Regions from separate parts of the Homo sapiens genome. Here regions 2 and 3 are each linked to region 1. Evidence: fine-mapped expression QTL. A gene starts in region 1. Each other region holds a variant in brackets. All regions are shown on one strand. Distances are from middle to middle. Region 1 holds the start of DBNDD1 (dysbindin domain containing 1). Region 2 has its middle 29 kb from the start of SNORA119. Region 3 has its middle 17 kb from the start of GAS8-AS1.

Region 1 (2,754 bases):
TGGGCTGCAGAGATGAATCATTCAGGGAGCCCTGAATTGCGGCTCCCTGGGATCCCGACAGGGCCCACTGCGACCTGTTCTTTTCATATTGAATTCGAGTTCAGATTTTTAGAAAAGAGCCTTTTCTTCACATATGTGGCTTAAGATACTTTCATTCAGTGTCAAGCTGTGCAGCTCAGAAACCCAGATAAATGGCATCTGAGTTTCCTGCAAAATCCCAGAGCAAATGTTAATACAAACAAACCGACTGCCCTCTGTCTGATGTCTGATGCTTCCTGCCACCCACTATCCACCAGGTAAACCGCCTCAGGCCACGGCATCAACTCAGTGAAGGCCTGGATGCTGGGTTAACAAGAGTGTTTATGAAGACTAGACTTTTTCTTTTCTTTTCTTTTCTTTTTTTTTTTTGAGACATACAATCATAGCTCACGGCAGCCTTGGACTCCTGAGCTCAAGCTGTGCTCCCACCTCAGCCTCCCAAAGGGCTGGGATTACAGGCATGAGTCAATGCTCCTGCAAACGGACTTTCTTTGAGAGATAAATATTGAAGTACTTACAAATGCAATGATCTAATGTGTATATAATTTGCTTCAAAATGACCCAGCAGTGGAGGGAAGTGAATGAGGACAGAGAAGCAGTGGCCCAGGCCAGGAGCTGGCAATCGCTGAATCTGGGCGATAGGGACATGGGGGTCAGTTTCATCGAAACTGCCTTGGCGCTCTCTGCAGCCCGGGCCCGCCGCCCTCTCCTTACCTCCCATCCCCCATCCCGCCCCTTCCAGCCTCCCAAGCACACGCCCTCGCCCCCACCCGCCCCCCGCGTTAATTCGCGCCATCCAGGGCGCTCTGTGAGTCTGTCATTACCCAGCGCGAGTCAGGCCCCTCCTGTGCCCCTCGCCAGCCCCGAGGGGCGCCCGCACACAGTCGGCGCCCCACACGCAAGTACCTGGAAGAGAACAAGAGGACGCCAGCGGGCGCGGCCGCCAAGTGAGTGCGCAGGAGCCCCGGACGCCCGGCCGGGGTCGGGAGGGCGCAGCCAGGTCCCGGTGGTGTCCGCGGCGGGGCGCGGCCCGCGAGGGAAGGGTCGGCGGGGGAGGGGTCCGCTGGGCCAGGGGCCAGCAGGGGGCGCGCGCGGGCCGGGGCGGGGCCGCACCTGTCCTGCGGCTGGGGGGGCGCCGGGAGGGGGCCGGGGCCCGGGAGCAGCTGCGCGCCCCGCCCCGCCCCGCGGGCTCCTCCCTGCCGCCGCGGCCCCCCGGTTGCTGCCCCGATGCGCTGCGCCCGGAGCCGGGGCCGAGTCGCTGCCGCAGCTGTTGGGGCGCCCGGGCCAGGCGACGCCGCCGTCGCCCGTGCCCCTCCCAGACCGCACCGGCCGCATGGAGCCCCCGGAGGGCGCCGGCACCGGAGGTGAGTTCAGCCCCAGCCCCCGAGACCCCCGCGCAGCGCTTCCCCGCAGCGAGCCGCAGCCCCTCCCCCCAGGGCTCACCCTTCGCCGCTCCCGGGAGTCGCGAAGACCCCTTTGGCAGCTCGGGGTCGTCCGGCGGGCCAGGGGCACCTCCCGGGCGCGGTCCCCGCGCGGGGCTGGGGGCACACGGACCGAGTCTCCGCCCCCTTGTTCTCTGCGCTCCCGGCCCGGGAAGCCGTGCCCGGCACGCTCCTTGGTGGGTGGCCCGGAGTTTCGTCCTGAGCCCCCTCCCAGCCAAGCCAGCCGGTGACCCGGGGAGCGGGGGAGGGGGGTTCCGGGGCTGGAGTTTGGGGTCCCTGTCGGTGGGGCGTGAGGGCGACGCTGGCCGCTTGCAAGCGCGTCCGCTTTGTTCGCCCAGCCGCGAGTCCCGGGGGGCGAGGGCCGTAGACTCGCGGGCAGGGATCCTGCCAGGGGCGAGGGGCTGAGATGGGTCTTGGGGATGTGGGGCATGCACGGGCGCGGCCTGCCGGGGACTCCAGAGCTGCAAGGGTGGCTGGTCCGGGAGTGGCCCAGGCGCACGCTCATCGGGGAGGGTAGGTGCGCGTGGAGCGCTCCCTGCCCTGATGGTGGAGGCCCTACTGCAGGACCTTGGAGTCGGTAACGGGAAGAAAGCTCTCAGAACCTCCCCCCTTCCCGATCAGAGACTTTTCCAAAAGGGCTTTCGGGGTTCCATTTGCCTAGGTAGGAACTTGGATGCAAACTGCAGACTCCTCCACCTGCCCAGCCAAGCCCACCACCTCCTGGTTTCCTAGAGCTCCCATTCCAGGGAGCCAGCAGGTGCCTGAGGGCACAGGCAGGCCAGCCTGCCGCTCTGGAACTACATGGGAACCTCTCAGTCCCCCAGCCGCACACAGTGGCATCCTCTGGAGCCCGAAGGGCTGTCCCCGGGAGGAGCAGGTCCACCCACCCTGTGTATCTGCAGTCCAAGGTATAGGGACAAATGCCCCAGGGCTGGTGGGTTTGGGTTTTGATTTGTCATTTGTGGGAGGGACCAGAGCTCTTTCTTAACACTGATAGTCCCAGGCTCCTGGGTATTCCCAGTAGCAGCTTTGTGGACATAGGAAGCCTGGAGGTTGGGAGTGAGGGCTTGGGGGTCTCCGAGCTGTTTCCAGCTGTGAACTGTGGGCAGTCAGGCCCCTGTGAGCCTCAATTTCCATTTCTGTCAGTGGAGACAGTTCTGCTTCCCCTGCAGGGCTGTGGGAGCCCAAGGCATTTGGGAGTGGAGGTTAATATGTTTTCCCTCCTCCTTTGGGAAAAAAGGAGGACTTCCCAGCAGCTTAAAAGGCAGAGAAA
Region 2 (2,754 bases), 37 kb after region 1:
ATCCCAGCTACTCAAGCGGCTGAGGCAGGGAGAACTGCTTGACCCCGGGAGGCGGAAGTGGCAATGAGCCAAGACTGTACACTGCACTCCAACCTGGGCAACAGAGTGAGACTCCATCTGAAAAAAAAAATCTAAAAGGCATAGAGGTCTCAGACTGACAATACAGCAAAGTCTTCCGGAACTCATCCAGAAACATTTCGCCCACACAGCTGCAGATACCACAAGAAAATGGTGCCACCAAGAATGAAAATGCAACCCCAAAGGCCTCCACGAAGCCACCCAGCGGCGAACACAGCCCGACAGCCGGTGCGCAGCAAAAACACAACTTGAGAGTGCGGCCATTTCCTTAGGTATCATGACAACAGCGTTGCTTTCTCCTCTCCACAGAATCTGAAACCACTATAACCCTACTTTTCTTGACTACTCAGGGTCATGTGACCAACACGAACGTGTTTATGACAGGGGCCTCTTGACCATAACGCAACCGCATCACGGTCAGCGTGTCAGATACCTGGAGAGGACCTCACAGAAGCTCTGGGATCTGTCCAGAACCCACACACCAGCAGGCATCTTGCTCCTCACAGCAGCAGCTGTGAGTGAAGACCAACAGCAGAGATGGGCTGCAGCAGCTCTCCCTTCCTCCCATAAGGAGTCATCAGGGACCTCTCTGAAGACAGGTGTGTGCCCTGTGGCCAGACAAAAAGGCCTTGGGTGGTGGTTCACAACTGTAATCATAGCACTTCAGGAGGACAAAGTGGGAGCATCACTTGAGCCCAGGAGTCTGAGACTAGCCTGGGCAACATAAGGAGACACTGTCTCTAAAAAAAAAAGTGCGGGCTGGGCACAGTGGCTCACGCCTGTAATCCTGGCACTTTGGGAGGCCAAGGTGGGAGGATTGCCTGAGCTCAGGAATTCGAGACCAGCCTGGGCAATACAGTGAAACCCTGTCTCTACTAAAATACAAAAAACTAGCAACCTCCACCTCCCATGGAGGTGTAGTGGCCAGAACCTGTAATCCCAGCTACTCAGGAGGCTGAGGCAGGAGAATCACTTGAACCAGGGAGGTGGAGGTTGCAGTGAATACAGATCGTGCCACTGTACTCCAGCCAGGGCGACACAGCGAGACTCCATGTCGGAAAAAAAAAATTACATTTTTTACAGTCCCAGATACTCAGAAGGCTGAGGTGGGAGGCTGGCTTGGAACCAGAAGGTCAAGACTTCACACCACTGCACTCCAGCCTGGGTGACAGAGCAAGACCCTGTCTCAAAAAAATTAATTAATTAATTAATTAA[A/TTAAA]AAAAAAAAAAAGGCCTTAGCCACAAACCCTGGTGGGAAAACAGGACTTTCCTACAGAAAGAAGTTCAGATCTTAACACTGTATCAGTTAACAAACGTCCTTCTGAGGGCAACTGAGAAGCACGGCACCTGCTCTCATGTAACTTTATACTAAACCCTGAGCAGTGCTTCACCAGCCTTCAGCAACCCGACAGACCAGGCCCAGTGAAGGACAGGCGGAGGCTTGCTGGTTACTAAACCCTGAGCAGTGCTTCACCGGCCTTCAGCAACCCGACAGACCAGGCCCAGTGAAGGACAGGCGGAGGCTTGCTGGTGCCACATGCCCCTGTGCACAGACACAAAGCCCCAGCCGCTGTCCAGGGTCAGCCAGCAAAGGACAGGGGTGCAGGAGGGGACACGGGTACACTAGGGGAAACAAAAGATCTGCATTAGGTATGTAATTGATACTTGATGATAAACAGACACAATCAGACAATCAGAACTTACTCACAGAAGCTGAAGCTAAAAACAAAAAGCCAAGATGTTAAGGAAGCTTCCACCTTGCAAGAAAATGGGCTTATTAACCTTCTGTTGGGGAAAGTAAAACTGTGTCTCATCTAAAAAATGAGCTTCCTAACCTTCTGTTGGGCTGGCTACTGGGAAAAGTAAACCTGTGTCTCATCTATGGCCTGAGGGTGGGACTGCCCAGGACATCTACCACACAACGGGTTTTCAACCCAGGCCTCAGAGCTCACAGCTTCTTAAGGGCATCGCAGACCACGTGCACCACTACAGCGGCCTCCTTCCCAGGTAGGTAAACTATAAATTCCTCTCACCAGACCTCTGGCCAGGTAATACTGTACAAAGTGCTTCCACGTGATTTCTCTTCCAGGATCTCGAAAATAGAGGTAGAAAAATCCCATGGCAACGCCTGCCCCCAAAAGGGCCAGACTGCGGAAATCCTCGTCATCCCAGGGGAAGTCCCCCCTGTGGAAAAAAGAAAACACATTTTCCAGTTAAATGAAGGTAGTTTCTTTATGAAAATAGCTATTTCCTTTTTCAGATGTTATTAGGAAAGTTTTGCAACCCCCCCCCACCGACCGTACACAATGTAGCCTCAGTTCCTCTCATGAGGAAAGATCTTTACGTGGTGTATGACACACACTGAAAGCCGCAGCTCAGCAGATGCCTCAGGAGAAGCAGAAAGTCCACAGAGAGCGCTGTGTTTGAGCCACTGTTGCTAGGGTTCTCTCTTATGGGGGTCTGTTAAAATCCAGACAGAGGCCAGGCGTGGTGACTCAGCTCTGTAGTCCCAGCACTAAAGGAGGCCAAGGTGAGAGGACTGCTTGAGCCCAGGAGTTCGAGACCAGCCTGGGCAACGGTGGGTGACCCCATGTCCACAAAAAATTTAAAAAAAAATTAGCCAGGAGTGGTGGTGCAAGCCTGTGGTCTCAGCTGCTCTAGAGGCTGAGGTGGGAGAATC
Region 3 (2,754 bases), 27 kb before region 1:
GTCCCGCCCCCTCTCACCGCGGTCCCGCCCCCTCTCACCGCGGTCCCGCCCCCTCTCACCGCGGTCCCGCCCCCTCTCACCGCGGCCCCGCCCCCTCACCGCGGCCCCGCCCCATCTCACCGCGGCCCCGCCCCCCGCCCCCTCTCACCGCGGTCCCGCCCCTTCTCACCGCGGCCCCGCCCCCGTCCCCGCCCCCACCACCCCCCAGCAGGTCCTCGCGACTCCGCTTCTGGGCCCCAGGTCTGTGCGCCCTGATTCGCCACCAGCGCACCTTCCTGGGCAAAGCCCCGCTGGGGCCCTCCTGGTGGGCACGAGGTGGTCCGGGGCGGGGTGACCGGCCCCGCCCTTCCCTTTGCCCGCGGGCGTCGCAGTCCGGCAGGGCAGGATGAGCCCCCGGGCCGTCCCGCGGCTGCTGAGGCTCCAGCGACACCTAGGCCCCCAGGAGGTTAGGGGGCCAGGCCTGGACCTGCAGGGCTCCTGTCCCCTCAGCTGCTTGCGTGGGGCTGAGCGTCGAGGGCCCAGGAACCGGGGCGCGGAGGAGAGCCCAGTTCCGGGAGAACCACCCCAGGGGCTGGAACTGAGGGCCTGGGGGGAAATGGCCATTTCGTGGGGCCGTGGGCGGGACAGTGGGTGTCCCCAGTGGGGCAGGGGAGCCACAGGGATTGGTGGGGGAGGGTCGGCAGGCACAGGCTGCGCTGTTTACGTTTGGTGCCTCATCAGCTGCCTGGGCACTTCCGGTCACCCTTGCCCCCTGTCCCCTGGGCAGCTCGGAGAACTCTGTCCAGAGGGCTGTTTAAGCCCCACAGCTGGTGTGGACGCAGGATTGGTGTGGGTAGGCGGGCACAGGGCTCCAGAGGCTCACCCTGGCCTCCTTCTCCTGGCCCAGGGCAGCAGCACGGAGCCTCCGGACAACCTACTGACCACCCACGTGCTGGACACCGCCTCAGGGCTCCCAGCCAGAGGCCTCTGCCTCCGCTTGTGCTGGCTGGAGGACCACGGCCAGCAGTGGGCGGAGCTGAGGACAAGGTAGGAGAGAGGCCCTGGGAGGGGGAGTGCCGCCCTGAGACAGATGGCGGGGACTAAGGGGCCAGGCAGTGAGGCTGGAGGGCGGAGCTCACCGCTGCCGACCCTCCTCTCAGCCCGGGTTGGGAGTGAGGTTAGGGGCTCTCTCTTCTGCTTCTCTCAGCCCGTTTCCTCCTCTGAAAATACAGGGATGAGGAGAGGAGCTCTTTCCTCCCTCCCTCCAGCCTCAGGCCCCTGTGACCCTGATGGGGTGGGAGTGA[G/T]TTTCTGCCTCTCCCTGGCAGCTGTGCCAGGGCGAGGGCGGGGGGTGGTGGTGAGGTGAGGCCTGAGGTGGCATCGAAGAGCTCACTGAGATCACGGGTAACCTTGTGCCAGGCAGTACGCTGGACATTATTTCCACTCTTTTCATTCTCCATACACCCCGTGGGCCAGCACCATAATTCACCCTTCTACACATGGGAAGACTGAGGTAGCAAGCCCAGGTGCGTGCTGGGATTCCCAGCCAGGCCTGAGGGGCAGTGTGTCCCTCAGCCTCCATGGGGTCTTGCCCACTGCCCCAGGCACAGGCTCTGCGCGGCACTTCCAGAGGCAGATGTCACCCACCCAGGCCTCATGGCCCCTGCGTAAGAGGCAGGCCCCCTCCCTTCCAGCCAGAAGGACAGGGCTGGGCCCATAGGATCAGAGAGAGTCTGACCCTGCCGCTCCTACAGTCGTGTGGTCCTTCACAAAAGCTGAGACACGAGGGGTCCAGGTCCCACCTGAGCAATTAGGACAGCACTGTGTGGGCTGGGCGTCCCGTGCAGGGTCACAGAGACTCATTACCCTCATGCACACACGCTATGTTTGTTGTTGTTGTTGTTGTTGAGACAGAGTTTCACTCTTCTTGCCCAGGCTAGAGTACAATGGCGTGGCATCAGCTCACCGCAACCTCCGCCTCCTGGGTTCAAGCGATTCTCCTGCCTCAGCCTCCCTAGTAGCTGGGATTACAGGCATGCACCACCACGCCAGCTAATTTTGTATTTGTAGTACAGACGGGGTTTCTCTACGTTGGTCAGGCTGGTCTCAAACTCCCGACCTCAGGTGATCCACCCACCTCGACCTCCCAAAGTGCTGGGATTACAGGCGTGAGCCACCACACCCAGCGTGCTATGCTCTTTTTCTTTTTTGAGATGGAGTCTCTCTGTTGCCCAGGATGGAGTGCAGTGGCACGATCTTGGCTCACTGCAGCCTCCACCTACCCAGTTCAAGCAATTCTTGGCCTCAGCCTCTCGAGTAGCTGGGATTACAAGCACCTGCCACCACCCCCGGCTAATTTTTGTATTTTTAGTAGAGACAGGGTTTCACCATCTTGGCCAGACTGATCTTGAACTCCTGACCTCGTGATCCACCCACCTTGGCCTCCCAAAGTGCTGGGATTACTGGTGTGAGCCACCTTGTTCGGGCCTGCTCTTTCTAATCACAGCAGAAGCGCACACTTTAAAGACCAGCTGGCAAGAATGATGGGAGGTTTTCCAGAAGTGACTATGGGCAAAGCCACGGTTATTCAGAACCCTGATAAGGGACCAGGGCACACAACACAGACGCTCCGTGGAGTTGGACAGGCCCACTCTGTGGGTGAAGGTTTGGTAGTTATTGACCCAGAAAGCCACACACTTTTTTTTTTTTTTTTTTTTTTTTTTTGAGATGGAGTCTCGCTCTGTCGCCCAGGCTGGAGTGCAGTGGCACGATCTCGGC

Evidence for each region. PIP is the estimated chance that this variant, and not a neighbour inherited with it, causes the effect. A credible set is the group of variants that fine-mapping cannot tell apart.
Region 2: its variant is the best candidate, but not a certain one, in a credible set for the expression of DBNDD1 in prefrontal cortex (ROSMAP, PIP 0.80).
Region 3: its variant is the best candidate, but not a certain one, in a credible set for the expression of DBNDD1 in lung (TOPMed, PIP 0.55).

Annotation. Positions count from the first base shown.
Region 1 is chr16:90,017,960-90,020,713 of GRCh38, reverse strand. It overlaps DBNDD1 (dysbindin domain containing 1), which reads left to right and starts at 1,258. Exons shown (of 4, transcript NM_001042610.3): 1 at 1,258-1,403. The coding sequence starts at 1,373. It also overlaps a transcript of DRC4 not described here. RefSeq lists silencers at 1-253, 1,000-1,139.
Region 2 is chr16:89,981,277-89,984,030 of GRCh38, reverse strand. It overlaps the pseudogene AFG3L1P. Among named protein-coding and RNA genes, the nearest start is that of SNORA119, 29 kb to the right of the region's middle. The variant A/TTAAA (reference allele first, on the strand shown) is at 1,294.
Region 3 is chr16:90,045,229-90,047,982 of GRCh38, reverse strand. It overlaps the pseudogene URAHP. Among named protein-coding and RNA genes, the nearest start is that of GAS8-AS1, 17 kb to the right of the region's middle. RefSeq lists an enhancer at 1,047-1,560. The variant G/T (reference allele first, on the strand shown) is at 1,284.